3 separate regions of the Homo sapiens genome follow, and all the other regions are linked to region 1. Evidence: fine-mapped expression QTL. A gene starts in region 1. Each other region holds a variant in brackets. All regions are shown on one strand. Distances are from middle to middle. Region 1 holds the start of ZNF696 (zinc finger protein 696). Region 2 overlaps ZFP41 (ZFP41 zinc finger protein). Region 3 overlaps TOP1MT (DNA topoisomerase I mitochondrial).

Evidence for each region.
Region 2: its variant is fine-mapped to the expression of ZNF696 in whole blood (TOPMed, PIP above 0.99).
Region 3: its variant is fine-mapped to the expression of ZNF696 in hippocampus (GTEx, PIP above 0.99). The same link has a PIP of 0.9 or more in cerebral cortex.

The regions. Positions count from the first base shown.
Region 1 is chr8:143,288,197-143,294,436 of GRCh38, forward strand. ZNF696 (zinc finger protein 696) reads left to right here and starts at 3,221. Exons shown (of 3, transcript NM_030895.3): 1 at 3,221-3,571; 2 at 4,776-4,869. The coding sequence starts at 4,806. RefSeq lists an enhancer at 2,710-3,285 and a silencer at 2,756-3,475.
Region 2 is chr8:143,252,564-143,258,803 of GRCh38, forward strand. The region is part of intron 2 of ZFP41 (ZFP41 zinc finger protein); the gene reads left to right. Among named protein-coding and RNA genes, the nearest start is that of ZFP41, 8.7 kb to the left of the region's middle. The variant C/T (reference allele first, on the strand shown) is at 2,164.
Region 3 is chr8:143,325,172-143,330,791 of GRCh38, forward strand. It overlaps TOP1MT (DNA topoisomerase I mitochondrial), which reads right to left. Exons shown (of 14, transcript NM_052963.3): 3 at 4,179-4,300; 4 at 1,051-1,173; 5 at 175-362. Among named protein-coding and RNA genes, the nearest start is that of TOP1MT, 6.9 kb to the right of the region's middle. The variant A/G (reference allele first, on the strand shown) is at 3,677.

The DNA of each region.
Region 1 (6,240 bases):
TACTTCTTTCTACACAGACACAGTAACAATCTGATCTCTCTTGCTTTTCCCCACAGGTCTCACTCTGTCACCCAAGCTGGAGTGCAATGGCGTGATCTCAGCTCACTGCAATCTCCACCTCCCGGGCTCAAGTGATTCTCCTGCCTCAGCCTCCCGAGTACCTGGGATTACAGGCGAACACCACCACTCCCGGCTAATTTTTGTAGTTTTAGTAGAGATGGAATTTCACCGTGTTGGCCAGGCTGGTCTCAAACCCCTGACCTCAGGTGATCCACCCGCCTCGGCCTCCCAACGTGCTGGGATGACAGGAGTGAGCCACTGCGCCAGGCCCAGCTGTCTTTGTTTTTCAGGGGTGCCTTTGGTAATTTCTTCATCGTACTTTTTTTTTTCAGGGTAGCAGGTAAGAGACTCAGTGGATAGGCTCATGGAAACAGTCCTTGAAGGGGTGGTATTCTAAGACTCAGCTACTTTTTTTTTTTTTTTTTTTTTTTTTTTTTTTTTGAGACGGAGTCTCACTGTGGAGTGCAGTGGCGAAATCTTACTGCAACCTCCGCCTCCTGGATTCAAGCAATTCTCCTGCCCCAGCCTCCCGAGTAGCTGGGACTAAGGCAAGCACCAACATGCCTGGCTAATTTTTTGTAATTTTTTTTTTGGTGGAGATGGGGTTTCACTATGTTGGCCAGGCTGGTCTCGAACTCCTGACCTCGAGTGATCCTCCTGTCTTGGCCTCCCAGAGTGCTGGGATTACAGGCGTGAGCCACCTCTCCGGCCTGGACTCGGCTACTTTTGGATCAAGAAATCCAGAATTTTCTAGACTGTGAACTTGCCCTTTATCATGGACATTTACCACCTGCAACTGCCCAGAGGTTCTCTGTCTCACCCTACACCGTGAGGACCCCCTTAGCAAACAGAATTCCAGGGCGCGGGCTCTTCGCAGGATCTGAGCTATTCGCGGGCGTCCTGAGTTGCTTGGATTCACTCCCCCACCCCCATGTCCCTGGAGTCCTGCCTTGTGTTTTCGATTCTGTTTCTCAGGGGCCCCAGCGTGTGGCCTCCCATTGTGGGAGAGCAGGAGGGAAGCGGTGAGGGGTGATTTCGGAGGAGGCAGAGCCCCGGGTGTCCGTGGGAAGCTCCAAAGCCGGGCCGCGGGACGGCTACCCTGGGCTGTGACGCAGTCCAGGATCTTCGCCAAGGCACCTGCTGGAGGCCCCTCCTGGGTCCCACGACCCCGACTGCGCCTGCCGGCTGCCAGCGAGGAGGCGGGGCCAAGGCGAGGGCGGGGCCGAGGCAGGAGGGGCGGGGTCGGCCTGATGGGCGGGGCTTCCGTGTGGGCGGGGCTGCTGGCCCTGCGGTCTGAGCCAGCGGGGAGAGGCCCGGGCGGAGGAGGCTGCGGACTCCTAGAGGTTCAGTGCCGGAAGTTGGGCCTGGAAAGGGGGCACCGCCTTCCCGGTTCTGGTGGCGGGGAGTGAGGGGACGGGCGAAAGCGGCACAGGGAACAGCATGACACGGGCCTGAGGCAGGGCACATTTGGAAAGGGGCGAGGAGAGGGCAGTGGCTTCTGGCACGGCAGCAGTGGGCATACAGAGGCAGTCGGGACCCGTCTGGAAGAGCCTCCGCCCGGGGTAAGGAGCCGGGACTGTGTCTAGGAGGCAGTGGGGAGCTCCGGAGAGCGAAGCGCCTCCTGCGCAGACTCGCGTGCTTGGAGTACCGGAGCCTGCAGGGCAAGAGAGGGTCTTCAGAAGACCCACGACGTTCCACTGGGATGCAGAGGGAAACGGTTACTTGTACTTCTACATCATCTCTTTTAGATGTGTGTGTGTGTGGTGTGTGTTGTTGTTGTTGTTTTTGTTTTGCGACAGAATCTCTGTCACCCAGGCTGGAGTGCAGTGCCAATCTCGGCTCACTGCAGCCTCCGCCTCCCGAGCTCAAGTGGTCCCCCCGCCTCAGCCTCCCGAGTAGCTGGTACCACAGGCGCCGGCCACCACGCCCGGCTAATTTTTAAAAAAAATTTTTAGTCGACACGGTTCTAACTATGTTGCTCAGGCTGGTCTGAAACTCCTGGACTCAAACAATCCTCCTGCCTTGGCCTCCCAAAGTGCTGGGATTACATTCATGAGCCTCTCGCCCACCCAGTCTAAGTGTTTTAATTTTTATCTTTTACAACAGCTTCTAATTTGTTACAAATAAACGTGCAGCATGTGGTGGGAGTGTTCAGGTGTTTACTGGTGCAGTGCGCAATGAACGCGGTTCCAGGCACGAGATGTGGAGGCCCAGAGGCAGATGCCGGGTGGCGGCGGCGCGGGACTGTCGGAGGCGCGGGCAGGGACCTGGGCTCCCAAGGCTGTGGCCCTCCCGCCCCAGTCCAGGGTCCAGTTCCAGGGGCGCGTCTGGCCCTCTGTTGCTGTCTTCTTAGGGTTCTCTCATGGGAATCGGTTCTTCAGCCTTTCTTTTCTCCCCAGAGAGGGTCTGTCTACTCGTTGTAAGAGGGAACAAGTCCACATTGCAGCTGTACACTTTGCACCCATGATGAAAAGCGTCACTTTTGCAGCATTCCAGCTGGAGATGCGTGACCTTCGGTCTGCGGCAGGCGGAAGGGCGAGAGACTTGGACAGGAGGTGCATCTTGCCCGGGGAAGGCTGAACGAATGAGAGCTCGGTCCCTGGTGAGAAAGAGCCCAGAGCCCGCGAGAGGCGGGCAGCAAGGGCTTCTCTGCAGCGGAGACGCGAGGGCGGCGTCCTGCAGGGAGGCGGGGGGCAGCGCCTGGGGCGCTCCAAGCTCTCGGCCCCAAGGAAGCCCACGCTCGGGACCCGCGTGCTGCCACAGCCCCGGGGGCCTGGAGGGTCCCGTGAGCCGAGCGGGACCCGGGACAAGCGCGGGACGCCGCGGGGAACGGACGGGAACGCGCGTGGCCGCCCCACAGCGGGCCTTCGACACCTCCTGACACGTCCTGCGGGTGCCCGGTCCTCAGTTGGCTCGAGCCGGATCCCGGCGCGCCAACGGCTCGACCTTGCCCCCCACGAGGCAGGGCTTCCTGCCCGGCAGGAAGGACTCGGCCGGCGCCTGCGGGCAACCGATGAGCTGAAGGCGCCGCGGCTGGGCCGTCCCGCTCTCCCGCCGCCGAGCGCGCTGTCCTCCCGCTGCCCAGAGCGTCGCCGGAAGTGCCGAGGGGGCGGGCCAGGGGTGGAGACTGGCGTTTCCGGCGCGCGACGGGGCGGGGACCGTAGCGGGTGCAGTCCAGCTGCTCTGGACGCTGAGGCCCCGGCTTCTCTTGCTGGGGTGTCGATTCGGGAGGGCTGAGGGCGCGGCCGAGAGAACGGGGCGGTCACCGCCGCCGTGGCCCGCGCGTCCCGCGCTCTCCTTGCAGTGCAGGCCCCAGCCGCTCTCGGGCGCGGCGTGGGGGAGGCGGCCCTGCAGGTGCGTACCCGGGGTCCGACACGTGCGGGGCTTCCTGCGAGCTGAGTCCCCGCTGCGCGTCTTCAGGCCTTTGTAAGTTGTCAAATTTCCCACCGGCCCAGCTCATCGAGCTTCTTCCCAGCTGTGAACAGGAGGGCCTGTTCCCTAATTCTTGCCGGTAAGGTACTTGCAAAAATCTGCTTCCAGACTAAAAAATTGCACTTTAAATTACCTTTTTGTAAAAGCGGCGGGGTCTCGCTATGTTTCCCAGGCTGGCCTCCTACTCCTGGGCTCAAGCGATCCTCCCGCTCAGCCTCCCTGGCAGGCGGGATTACAGGCGGCTTAAATTAAATTTACTAATTAATCACTTTATTTACTTATTTTTTTAAGACAGGGTCTCACTCCAACGCCCAGCTGGAGTGCAGTGGCGAAATCTCGGTTCACCCCAGCCTAGACCTCCTGGGCTCAGGCAGTCCTCCCACCTCAGCCTCCCTAGTAGCTGGGACTACAGACGCCCACCATCACACCTGGCTAATTTTTTGATTTTTTGTAGAGACGGGGTCTCACTATGTTGCCCAGGCTGGTCAGGAACTCTTGTAATCAGTCAGTCCTCCATCCTGAGCCTTTTGAAGTGCTAGGATTACAACTGTGAGCCACAGCACCCAGCCAAATTACATTTCTTAATTGCACTTGAGGTGAGACCTAAAAAAATGTATTGCCTACTGGTTTTTCTTCTTTGTGAGTTACCTATTCATGATCTTTGCCAATTTTCCTTCCTTTCTCATTAATATATAGAGGTCTTTATCAGATAGGGATGAATCTTTGCATTGCACGTATTCCTCCCTTTTTGGTTTTTTTTTTTTACATTAAATTTTTTTATGTAGTTGAATTTGTCAGACATCTGATGTCAGGCTTAGAAAAATCATTCCTCATTCCAAAACTTTACCATTCAAATAAGTTGTTCTTTTCTTCTGGTTTAACATTTTTATATTCAAATCCTTATAACTACCAAGAAAATTTTAAAACCCATGGGAATTTCTCTAGACATTTGAAGACTGCTGGAGGGCGCGGGCTTCCTCAGCATGGAGCTAGGAAGCTGTGGCCACGCCCACCTGTGCTCTGCGTCAGCCCTGGGTGGAGGGGGACCCGCAGAGCCTGGACCAGAGTTCCTGGGCATCCCACAGAACAGAACACCCGCTTCTGGGAGTGTCTGTTGAGCCAGGACCTTGATTGCTAGTGACAGGAGTGGGCCCAGCTGGGTGATGCAGCTCCCACAGGGCCTGTTCTGACAGTTTCCTCTGAAGGCATTCTGACCTCACTGCCCCTGGCCCCTGTACCTAGCCCTGGCTGTGATTTATTTTCCTTTTCTTTTACCTAAGCAGAAATTGTTCCAACTGCTGGTGTTCTGCAAGATGGAGCCAGGAGGAGAGCCCACAGGTGCTAAAGAGAGCAGTACCCTGATGGAGTCCCTTGCAGGTGAGGGGACATGTCCACAGTCGGGCCCAGAGTTCCAGGGCAGGAATTGAACAGGAATACAGGAAAAACACCATGTCTCAGTCACTGACGCAGAGCATATACTGTGTCCTTGGGCGCAGGGTGAGGGAGGGAGGTAAACGCAGGCCCATCAGATCTCCTGGGCATCTGTTTGGTGACTGTCTTTGCCAGTGAACTGAGAGCTTTTGGTTAGAAAGTCTGGCAGCCCCAGGCTCTGCCTCTGGGAAGGTCTCTCTCTCAGTGCTTCTCCACCTTGGCACCGTGGCTGTTTTGGAATGGACGAGTCTTTGTTGAGGGGCCATCCTGTGTGTTGTAGGACGTTCGGCAGCACCCTCGCCTCTGCCCACTTGGTGTCAGTAGGGCCCCCTCCCAGTTGTGACAATCCAAAACATCTCCACACATTGTCAAATGTGCCCTCAGGACAAAATCGCCCCCATGAGAACACTGCTTTATGTTTTGGGGCCACCCTGAGAGTGTGTCACAGCAACAGCCCGGGAGATGGCGTGGGCAGTGCAGGCCCTGCTGTGAGGTCTGGGATTGCCTCCATCGGAAAGGCGTCCTTGGGGCCTGCAGGCTGGATCCAGTAGAGCTCCACCACGTATGTGTCCCCTTCTCACCATAGTCTTGGTTCTTTTTCCTCATAAGCAATACCTTTGAGTCAGTTCTTGAACTTCCAAGTCTGCAAACCACAAGACCAGGGCTGGGCCTCTGCCAAGGGGCTTCTGTTCTGCAGGCCGCCCTGAGCGCCTCCCGCCCCCTGGCTGCTCAGTGTCAGGGGTCTGCAAGGGCAGAGAGAGGTGGGGACTGTCGATAGCAGCCTGCTCTCATCTGCCCTGGAACATCCCTGCCCCACCCCCACCTCCACAGGAGCTTCCGTCTTATCTGCGCCCTCCACATTCTTGAGAGGTGCAGCTGGGACTCAGCCGCTTCTCCTCTGCTGCCACAGCGGACTGCCTGCAGACTGAGAAGTCCTCCTCAGTTGCTGTGCTGGCCTCGTTGGCCCCCCTCCTCCTGCTGCCCCTCCTGGCTGAGTCCTCCTGCCTCCTATGCAGGCCAAGCTCAGTTGCCAGCTTTCTCATGTCCCAGGGTTTCACCCCTACCCCTTAAGCCTTTTTTCTAAATGGCCACATGGTCTGTCCCTGTGAGCCAGTGGAACCAAATCTAACCAGTGGCTTGACTGCCAGACAAGGGCCATTGATAACGCAGCCTGGATGGGGTTGCTCAGCCTGACCAGCGCCGCCGCCGCCCAGCCCACATGGGACGTGGGTTGCTGCTTCCAGCTCTTGTTCCGGATTTCTTTTCTTTTCTTTTTTTTTTTTTTAAGACAAAGTCTTGCTCTGTCGCCAGGCTGGA
Region 2 (6,240 bases), 36 kb before region 1:
CTCCTGATGGTCCTGCCGCCTCAGTCGCTGCTGGAAGCACGGCCTTCGTGGCTTCTCAATGGCCCGTGGTCCCAATGGGGGTAGGTAGGTGGCAAGTCCCGTGGTGTCGTGTACCTGCCTCTGTGATGACTGTGTCTCACACTATTGGGCGTGTGCTGGGGAGGCCAGTCTTCCCGTGGGGCTCCCCGGGGCTGTGGTCAGCCCACTGCCGTCAGCATGGGGGTGAGGGGGTGAGGGAGCGAGGGGGCGGGCAGCCTCAGCCTCACCTAGATAGACTGTCCCTGGATGCCGCCGGCGGACCACGGCCAGTGTTGACCCCCACAGGGCAGGACATCCTGGTGGGCCCCCTGGCCCGGATCTCCTTATGCAGCCGTTCCCGGTATGTCCTGAGGCTGGACGGCCTCAGCCAGCTGTCACCAGGAGAGGAATACTCGCACTCCCAGAAATGGACATATCAGGAGGTGAATTGTTCAGAAGCAGGCATCAGAGCACGTGTGACGTGTGATCCTGGATCGGAAGAGTTGCTTTGAAGGACTTTGCTGGGACGTTTGGCCGACCTGGATTGTAGACTCCAGGCACAGTCAACTGCAGGCACAGTCAACTGCAGGCACAGTCAGCACCAGCGCAGCAGGGACGGGGCGGTCCTCACTGACGTCCTCCTACTGCAGATGCACACTGAGGCTCTTGGCCGCAGAGCGTGGCGTCTGCAGTTCATGCCAACGGTGTGTGCACGTCCCCGGAGAGTGACAGAGGAGAGTGGCTAAATGTCAGTCATGGGGAATCTAGAGCACAGGTGGGCACGCTTCTCCGATGAAGGGTCAGGCAGGAAATATTCTTGGCACTGCAGCCATACAGCCTGTGCCTCAGCACCCACGGGGGACCACAGAAGGTTGGGGACCACTGCTTTAAACAACTAGCTCTCCCGTGAAGAGCAGGTCCCCACCCTGCTGTGTAGGGCAACAGCAGATGTCAATGGCATATGAATGAACGAGCGTGGCTGTGCCAATAAAACTTTATTTACAAACGTAGGAGGTGGGCCGGATTTGCTTGCCGATCCTGTCCTAGGTGAAGGGTGCATTCGAGCTCCTGGTATAGTTTGGACGTCTGTCCCCTCCAGATCTTATGTGGAAATGTGATCCCCAGTGTGGGAAGGGGCCTGGCAGGAGGTATTCGGGTCACGGGGACAGATCCCTCGAGAATGGCTTGGTGCCCTCCTCACAGTAATGAGTGAGCTCTCACTCTTGAGGTTCACTGGAGAGCTTGTTGTTTAAAGCAGTGGTCCCCAACCTTCTTGGCACCTGGGACCAGTTTTTTCCGTGGACAGGGAGTGGTGTGGATGGTTTGAGTATGAAACTGTCCCACCTCAGATCATCAGGCATTTGATTCTCATAAGGAGCGTGCAACCTAGATCCCTCGCATGCAGTTCACGGTGGGGTTCGTGGTCCAGTGAGAATCTAATGCCACCGCTGATCTGACAGGAGGCGGAGCTTAGGCGGTAACGCTCACTCGCCTGCCACCCACCTCCTGCTGTGTGACCCACTTCTAACAGGCCATGGACCCGTCTTGAGGTCAGGGACTCCTGCATTAAAGAGCCTGGTGCCTCCTCCCGTCTCTTGCTCCCTCCCTGCAGCCTCACCAGAAGCCAAGCAGATACCTGTGCAGCCTGCAGAACCGCCAGCCACGTAAACCTCGTTACAAAAACTTACCCAGCCTCGGGTGTTCCTTTATAGTAACACACAATGAACTAACACAACTCCCAGTCCTTGCACACGCTCTCTGTGTCTTAGTGTCCTTCAGAATTAGCTGTTGGCAGGGAAGAGCCGGCGTCAGGAGTCAGGAACTCGGACACAAGAAAGAAACCAGGGGGCGGGACAGGGAGCTGCTCAGAGCAGGCATCCTCTGCTGTCTGTCGGGATGTGCCACAGAGGGTGGCAAGTGTGGACACGGCTGTCTAGGATGGCCCAGGAGACGGGCACGCATTCCCTGGTGGTGTCTGCATTTGGTTTGATTTTACTTATGATAGTATGATCGTTGCTTTTCCCCGTTACTGACAATAGGGAGCGTTACTTTTTTTTTTTTTTTTTTTTTGAGACAGAGTCTCATTCTGTTGCCAGGCTGGAGTGCAGTGGCACGATCTCAGCTCACCACAACCTCCACCTCCCG[C/T]GGTCAAGCGATTCCCCTGCTTCAGCATCCCGAGTAGCTGGGATTTCAGGCACGCACCACCACGCCCAGCTAATTTTTGTATTTTTAGTAGAGACGGGGTTTCACCATGTTGGCCAGGAAGGAAGCATTACTTTTAATGCCTGCACAATGACCAGTTGAATCGAAAAGGCACAGGTGACTTATCCACTTCCCAGCATGGGCATGTGGGCTGTTTCCAACCTAGGTTATTATAAATAATGCCACAATAAATATCTTTTCCATATTTAGGGCCAATAGGACGGATTCCCAGGTGTGGATTGACATCTCACCAAATGCCAGCCCCAGGTCATGCCCACAGAGACGCCTGCAGCAGCGCATGGCTGGCAGGACCACCTCAGCCTCTCTAGCAGCAGGCAGGTGGGTTCCTGATCCTAAACTCACACTTTAATCTGATGTCTTTGATTTCTAGGACGCACGTAGTGGGTCAAGAGCATAGCTCTCAAGTCAGGGGCTGTGGACTTGACCCTCACTCTGGAACTGTGGGGCCTTTGCCTCAGTTTTCCCAGGTGTGAAATGGCGATGCTGACAGTGCTTAACCCCACAGGGTTGCCAAGAACAAGAACCGTAATACGTGACGTCGTAAGCACACTGCTGGATCCTACGAACTGTGTGACCGTGTCAGCTCGCCCCGTGTCTGGTGTTAGTGAGATCAGAGCTCGCCCCGCGTGCTGGTGTTCTTGAGATCAGGGCTCACCCCGCGTCTAGTGTTAGTGAGATCAGAGCTCACCCCGCGTGCTGGTGTTAGTGAGATCAGGGCTCGCCCCACGTGCTGGAGTTAGTGAGATCAGGGCTCGCCCCGCGTGCTGGTGTTCTTGAGATCAGGGCTCGCCCCGCGTCTAGTGTTAGTGAGATCAGAGCTCACCCCGCGTGCTGGTGTTAGTGAGATCAGGGCTCGCCCCACGTGCTGGAGTTAGTGAGATCAGGGCTCGCCCCGCGTGCTGGTGTTAGTGAGATCACGGCTCACCCCGCGTGCTGGTGTTAGTGAGATCAGGGCTCTCCCCGCGTGCTAGAGTTAGTGAGATCAGGGCTCGCCCCGCGTGCTGGTGTTAGTGAGATCAGGGCTCGCCCCGCGTGCTGGTGTTCTTGAGATCAGGGCTCGCCCCGCGTGCTGGTGTTAGTGAGATCAGGGCTCGCCCCGCGTGCTGGTGTTAGTGAGATCACGGCTCGCCCCGCGTGCTGGTGTTAGTGAGATCAGGGCTCTCCCCGCGTGCTAGAGTTAGTGAGATCAGGGCTCGCCCCGCGTGCTGGTGTTAGTGAGATCAGGGCTCACCCCGCGTGCTGGTGTTCTTGAGATCAGGGCTCACCCCGCGTGCTGGTGTTAGTGAGATCAGGGCTCGCCCCGCGTGCTGGTGTTAGTGAGATCACGGCTCGCCCCGCGTGCTGGTGTTAGTGAGATCAGGGCTCGCCCCGCGTGCTGGTGTTAGTGAGATCAGGGCTCGCCCCGCGTGCTGGAGTTAGTGAGATCAGGGCTCGCCCCGCGTGCTGGTGTTAGTGAGATCACGGCTCGCCCCGCGTGCTGGTGTTAGTGAGATCAGGGCTCGCCCCGCGTGCTGGTGTTAGTGAGATCAGGGCTCACCCCGCGTGCTGGAGTTAGTGAGATCAGGGCTCGCCCCGCGTGCTGGAGTTAGTGAGATCAGGGCTCGCCCCGCGTGCTGGTGTTAGTGAGATCAGGGCTCGCCCCACATGCTGGTGTTAGTGAGATCAGATATTGGTTCACACACGAAATGGGGGCCATGCAAACTGACTGCCTTGGATACTTCTCCAAGGAAAAGATGAGAGAGCTGGCTTCAACAAAATCGGCATGGAAAACAACAAAAGATACATTTTTGGGGCCAGATGTGGTGACTCACATCTGTAATCCCAGTGCTTTGGAAGGCCGAGGCAGGAGGATCACTTGAGGCCAGGAGTTCAAGACCTGCTTGGATGACAGAGCAAGACCCTGTCTCAAAAATAAAAGATACATTTTTTTAAATCCACTTGGAAATTTTTTTTAACGTTTATGGTTATGAGAAAAATTGCATAACCAAAACAAAACCAGTCTGCCATCTTTTTTGTCCCTATCATTTGGCACAGACAGACGAACTCCTGACGTCACAGCAGGACCAAGAGCTGAAGCCGGAGGCACAGACAGATGAATTCCTGATGTCATAGCAAGACCAAGAGCTGAAGCCGGAGGCCGTCTAGGCTGACCTCTGCTTCGGTGTCTTGTTTAAAAGAAGCTCTTATTGCAGGAAGAGAAAACCTACATGACCCAGGTGAAAGATAAGACACTTAAAATTCAGTGATCATATGACTTAACAGAGCACCTGATGGCAGTGGGAGCCAAGGGCAGTATCCAACCCTGTGTGCTTCTGTTGCTGTTAGGAGAGGAGCTGGAAGTCAGGAGAGGAGCTGGAAGTCAGGAGGGAAGCACCCAGTGTAACAGTTAGAAGAAGAAAGGCCCAGGCCAGGCACGGTGGCTCACGCCTATAATCCCAGCACTTTGGGAGGCCAAGGCAGGCAGATCACCTGAGGACAGGAGTTCAAGACAAGTCATGGCTAACATGGTGAAACCCCATTTCTACTAAAAATACAGAAGAAAATTAGCTGGGTGTGGTGGCGCATGCCTGTATTCCTAGCTACTTGGGAGGCTGAGGCAGGAGAATTGCTTGAACCCAGGAGGCGGAGGTTGCAGTGAGCCAAGATCACGCCATTGCACTCCAGCTCAGGCAATAAAAGTGAAACTCTGTCTCAAAAAAATAAATACATAAATAAGTAAATAAAGCCACTTATTAATACAATTAATGGAAACAGACACCATTGAGAGGACAAAAGAGCTAAGAGTTGGTTCTTTGAAAGGACTATTAAAATTGACATCCTCTGGCAAAATGACTAAGAAAAAAGGAGCAAATCACCCATCAGGAATGAGAAAGGAAGACAGTTCAGCCACATCCGATGCTGAAAAGGTGAGAAAAGCCTGTGCTGACAAAGAGAACTCCACCAAAACGGTTCGACCATCAGGAGGAAAGTCACGTGGCAGCCCAGCTCGAGGAGACACGCACACAGAATCCATCGCCATGACAGAGATTGTGTGGATGATTCTCAGTCTTGCCAAAGAACACCAAGTCCAGGTGCTTTGCACGTGAGTTCAAGAAACAGCTCCAGTTTTACCCAGACTCGGAGACAGACAAGAAACACACCCTGTGTTATTTTCTGAAGTGAGTGTAATCTGGATATCAAAATTACAGTTCAGTGTCACTCATACACATATACATGAACAAAGGTACTAAGCACTTGCAGGCCAGGCACGGTGGCTCATTCCTGTCATCCCAGCACATTGGGAGACTGAGGTGGGAGGATCGATTGAGCTCAGGAGTTTGAGACCAGCCTGGGCAACAGAGTGAGATTTCATTTCTAATAAAAATTAAAAATTAGGTATGGTGGCGTGCGCCTGTGGTCCCATATACTCGGGAGGCTAAGGTAGGAGGATCAGTTGAGCCCAGGAGGTTGACACTTCAGTGAACTGGGATTGTATCACTGCATTCTGTTCTGCAGACGTGAGCAGGAGTGATGGACGCCTCTTCCAGGCCTGGCCTCCTGAAATCTTCCCTGTAATCATCTGCTGTCCTCCCTTCCTGTGACTGAGAGAGAAGGACTCAGAGATGGCAGAGCCACACACCAAGAGAAGGAGCCATGTCCTGGAGTCACCCTCGGGAGAGCCTCAAGACCCTGTCATGGTGTGAGCAAGAAGGGGAGGCCTCCTGAGCCAGACGCTGACATGCGGAGGTTCTTCGTTATCCCAGCCACCGTTACTTACCCTGACCACTGTAGCAACAAATGACAAATGTTCAGAATATGTGCAGCATTCATAGGAACCAGGATTTTTAAAGACAAATATCTAAATAGAAAAATGGCCAAAACAGGAGTTCAAGACCAGCCTGAACAACGCAGCGAGACCCCATCTCTAGAAAAAAGAAAAATGGGCAAAAGTCGCAGAAGAAAAAAACATCCATGGCTCGTAAATACCTGAAAACATGCTCAATCTCTTTAAAAATCAGA
Region 3 (5,620 bases), 37 kb after region 1:
GGGAAGGCCGCCCTTGCCCGGCCACGCCTACAGGCTGAGCTCCACAGGAATGGTGTGGGGGTCACCAACCACATGTTTCTCGGTGTGCCTCCCTCTCCCAGGAGGTGAAGAAAAGCCAGCCTCACCCGGGTGGCGGGGGTCCAGTGCCCGCCTGCTGCCCGCCCGGCCACGCACCTGCTGCAGTTGATAACCACATCCTCTGGCGTGATCCTTCTCTTCAGCATCCCCATCTTGGGATGGTCGCCACGGCCACGGAACAAGCCAGGCGGCTCAATCTTGAAGTTGCCTATTTTTTCTTGGTGACCATCTAAAATACAGTAGCCGAACTCTTGCTGAAGTTTTTCTGCCTCTTCTTTTAGCTTCTGAGTTAATAAAACAGTCAGTGGACATTAGCAGTGAAGAGAAGAGAACAGGCCTCAGTCCGTTGTTGCTAACCCGGGACCACCCTGCTCTGTCTGGCTAACTCAGCTGGACCCTCAAAGCCCTTCACAATCCATGGAGGTTGCAGGGGCAGGGGACAGTGCAGGTGGGCTTGCAGGGGGCACCGAGAGCCATGGCCTAACCACCCCATGGCCTGGACTCCCCGGCCCCTGCACAGACTTCGGCTGTTTTAGGCCTAAGCAGTAAAGCCAGGTGGAGGGAGCGTGGCTGCCCGCCATGGAGGAGGAGGGCTAAGGGAATCCCTGAGAAGGCCACATGGAGATCACAGCACGGCAGGTTCCTGTTAGATGTAGGGAGACGCATGGCACAGAACAGCAAGAAGCCGACTGGCCTGCACAAGCCCCGCCCTCAGCCCACGGCCCGTCTGGGAACCCACCCTTGATCAATGATGGTAAATTATCCATTTCAAACCGGGTTTACTCTCAAATGTGCTCTGGGGAAGCGGAACGACACTTAAGCACATGCAGGGGCGCTAAGGCTGACGAGAAAAGAGCAGCTTTGTGAGAAGGGGCTTCTCTAAGGCCACAGGCCTTTCTCAGTCTTTGGGCCAGGCCGGCCTCTCGTTCCCAGGGGCCACTTCAGGTCACACAACGCTCGAGGCAGCCCAACCTGCTTCTCCTCCCTGCTCAGGACTTTCCGGGCTGCGGCCTTGTCCACAAAGTATCTGTGGATCTCCGTGAAGTCACACTTGTCCAGGCTCTTGATGACTTCCCTCTCTTCCACCGCCATTTCCTGCAAAAACCACAGACACGCGCTCTCACCATGTCTGAAGGACAGACATGCAGAGCGCTCTCGCCATGTCTGACGGACAGAAACGCGCTCTCGCCATGTCCGACGGAGGCGTGTGTGCAATAGGCAGAACCTGCGCACGGTCCTGCGGCCCCGTAAATAGAGCCTCTCCCCGCAGACCCCACAGATAGAGCTGGTTCTGTTATTGCAGGCATGGAGTTGGGTGGGGCAGCGGAGGGCACAGTTCTCCAAAAGCAACTTCACAACAAGTCAGTAGTAAAACTGGCTAAAACCTTTGCACCCAATAATTCCACTTTGAGATCCATCCTAAATAAACTCTCCAGTATGAAAACCCGGATGACGACCGCACTAAGGGCAACTGCAGAAACGTCATGACCGGACAGAGCAGGATACATGGTCGGGAGCTCATCTGGTGAACGTGACGGGATTCGCGAGGGCAAAGTCTCAGTCCATACGTGCTGCTGCCACAAAATACCGGGGACTGGTCAGTTGTAAATCATAGTCACAGCTCTGGGGGCTGGAAGGCTGGGATCAGGGTCCCAGCATTTGACGTCTATGGAGGGCCCAGTCCCTGCTTCTGAGAGGATGCCCTGAAGGCTGTCCTCACACAGTGGAGGGGACAGAAGGACAGAAGGGGCCCAGCTAATTCCACCCAGCCCTGCCCTAAGGCCCTAAATTAATCCTAAGGGCTGCAGCAAGGTGGAGTCCTCACAGCCCAATCAGCTCCTAAAGGCCCTCCCTCTGTCCTGTGGTGCTGGGGATTCAGTTTCAAGGTGAATTTTGGAAAGCACAGCAGAAAACAGTTTGACGATGATCTACCCGTGTGGAGACTAAGCGGGATAAAATGCTAAGTGGGGAAAACATTACAGGCACACTGATCACACTCACACGAAAACTAGTGCCCAGGAAAAGCCAGGACGCGGGAACAGGAGACACTGACCTGAGGGAGAGCCGCAGATCACAGGCAACTGTTTCTCCTTTCGTTTCCTACACAACAAAAACTCTGCACAGCCCATGGACAAAAGCCCAGGCTTGCGGGCACCAGCTCACGGTCCCAGTCCAGGCTCGGCCACTTAGGCCTGTGAGACCTCAGGAGCTGCTGTCAAACGTGTCTCGCTGTGGGATGGGGATGATCCGCCTCTTCCGAGGAGCTCAGGTACGACACCATCTGTGCCAGGATGGAGCCCTGCTCGGCCACAACCACGGGCTCAGGGTCCGTCCCTGTGTCTCCCGGGGCCGCCGGATGTGCCACCCACTCCTGTTCTGCTGCTTTGTGACACTGCCTCCCTTCCTAGCTCTGCTAGTGACTGGAAGAAGTGCTGACCAGAGGGAGAATGAGGATGCCGGGCAGCTGGTGCCACCTCACAAAGCTGTCGTGAAAGGCAGAGGGGTGGCATCAGGCCAAAGAAGAGGGTCCAGAAGCGGAGCCTGCACAGGGGACAAGGAAGCACAGGCTCCAGCAGCTGGCTCGGGGCAGTCAGACACCCACATGCAACACACGAGCCTCGGCCTCTACCCCACACTATAACCAAAATTAACTCAGAGTTCCACCTAAACCAAGCTGACCTCAATGGAAACCTAAAACCAAAACTTCTAGGAAAAACATAGGAGGAAATCTCTGTGCTGCCGAATTCAGCAGATTTCTTAGACAAAACAACAAAAGCAAACCTGTGACAAAACATGAAACGTGGGACCTCATCAGTATTCCAAACTCCTGACCTTCCAAAGACATTGTTAAGAGAACGCAAATAGAAACTACAAACACCATGAAAGATTTTTGCAAATCATATTTCTGATAATGGACTTAAAACAGGACACAAAAGTACTCACCATAAAAGACAGATTGATAAACGGCATAACTAAGTTACAGTTTTCTGTTTGGAGACCTCACTGAGAAGTGAAAAGGCAAAGTCTGGGAGATGACATTCACAGCATGTGCGTCTGGCAAAGAACCTGCACCCAGGATGCGTTTTTAAAACTCCGATAAATGAGCGAGGAATACGCAAGCAACTCAGTTTTTTAAATAGACAAAAGTTCACGAAAGAAAATACTGAAATGACACGTCAGTACACCAAAAGATGCTTAATATCACTTGTCATTAGGGAAACGCAAACCACACCCACGGCGAGGTGTCATTTTGTGCCCACTAGAAAGGTGCCTCGCACCCGCGGCAGGCGTGTGGACAGTTCAGCCTGGTGTTGCTAGTAAGCTGGACACACGTGACCCAGCAATTTCACCCCAAGTCCTGTCAGAGGCAACTCACACATATGTGCCCTCACCCACGTGGGAATGTTCATGGCAGCTTTACACATGCAAAGGCCTAAAACAGGAATTAATCAAACACCCACGAATAGGGAAATGGACTAGCATGAGTCACGGAACAGAGGAAACGCGACCCGGCCAGAGCCAGGAAGATGCTGCGGGACAAGCAGTCAGGGGCGAGCCTCGCAGGTGTGGGGCAGACAGAAACCCCGGAGGGCACAGA[A/G]TCCGCGGCACACACATAAAATCAGTCAGGCCATGGGCGAAGGGCAGTCACCTTGAAAATGAGCAAGGAAAAAGCCTTGAGGCAGCACCCTCCCCTCCAAAGAGCTTCTCGCCAAGCATGTCTTCCTGGGGGCTGGGAAATGGCATGCGGCCTCCTCTACTCTCCTTCTTATATGCCAGACCCCTGTCCTTTCAGCGGTCCATGGAGTAAGGACCACAAATCGGCCTCCACATCCACAGCCTGCCTGGGAAGGGAAAGGTCTGAGGTGCACTAGGCTGGACACACTGGCACCGCCTATGGTCCCAGCTACTCAGGAGGCCGAGACAGGAGGATGGCTTGAGCCCAGGAGCTCGAAGCTGCAAAGAGCCATGACGGCACCTGTGAGTGGTCACACAGGGGCCACCGAGAACTTGCGAGGGGCGTTCAGAGGCAGCACTGCAGAACCGCAGACGCCTAGCCAGCCAGGTCCAGGACAGCTGTGGCGGCCGCCCAGGGTACCTACCTTTCGCCAGTCATTGAAGAAGTTCTTCCGGAAAACCTCCTTTGTTGTGTATTCATGATCTAACATCCTCCCATAAAAAGTGGCGACCTCCTCCGCTGCCACGCTCAATCTCACAGGCCTTCCTGCAGGCATCGGAAGACACATCGTATGAGAGAGCGGCCAGAGGCTCGGCCTCCAGCTGACATGACCTCATTGCTTTAAACTACGCTTTCGTGCGTACTATGCCAAGAGCAAGAAGCTAGGCCTTCTTCTGTAAGTTCAGAAGCATGTTCTGCATGACACACGACAATCAACCTGCGTGGAGGTGGCGACCACAGTGATCTGGGAGCGGGTCGTGAGAAAGCTGCAGAAGATTTCAGGCGCTACTGCTTTCTCCTCCTTTACCACTTAACGTTGCTACTACATTTATATTACATGAAAATGGAACATGTACAATTTTAAAACACACCAATTTCCACAAAATTTCACAAGTAAAATAAAAGTTAAGGCTTCAAAGCAGAAAACTGAATAACTAGGTGTACCCTTTTACAACTCTGCGGCCTCTGTCCCACCATTCCCTGCATTTTATTCTAAGATCAGTGTGGTTTAGAGATGGGGGGTGAGCTGGGAGCAGGCGAGCAGAGTGAGAGGCTCGTGGTGGGAACGAGGGTGTTCACCAGGAATTCTTTCAACTGCACGTCTGAAAAGCTTTCATAAGAAAATTTTAGAGAAATAAATGCATAATCATTTGGTAAGAAGGAGGAAGGCATTTCTGATAAACAGCAGCAATCCTTCCCCAAACTAGCTTCTCAGGACAGAGGACGAGAGGCCCAGAGACCAGCAGCACAGGCCCGAGGGGCTCAGCTCCCACTGCCCCTCTGTGGAGGCTCGGCCCCACTGGGCCCCACGCGACACCACCACTCCCCGGACTGTCCACCATGGCCCTGCATAAGCAGTCCTCGCCTGCCATGTCCCTCCTGGCCAGGGAGGTCCTGCAGGGCTGCTGTGGGGCAGGCGAGGCAGCCGCTACACCAGGCCAGGGGCACAGCGCGAGACGCTCAGTAAGGTCCCATGGCCTCCCGTGGGCAGCCCCCACAGACACAGCTAGAACCTCTGTCCCTGTGGAAGCTCCAGTACCGCTTTGGAGAAACAGGCTTTGAACAAAACATTGCATCAAAGGAGCTCAGCAAACTCAGGTGTGCATGTGACTCGGCAGGGGGCCCACGGGAGGGCTGGTGGGAGGGGCACAGCATGGCGTGGGGGCCTGCCCTGGGGGAGAAGAGGTTTGCTTTTCTTAGAAGGATGCCTTCTAGCAGAGATGAAGAAAATAGGCTGAAGCAGCTAAAATCAGCAGCACAAGAGCCAAGCCAAAGCTCCTGGGCCCTGGGGTAGAGAGGAGGGCTCAAGGGCAGGAGGGGTGTGTGGGCCCTGCTGCCCCAGAGCCCCCGGGTCCTGCCTCTGAG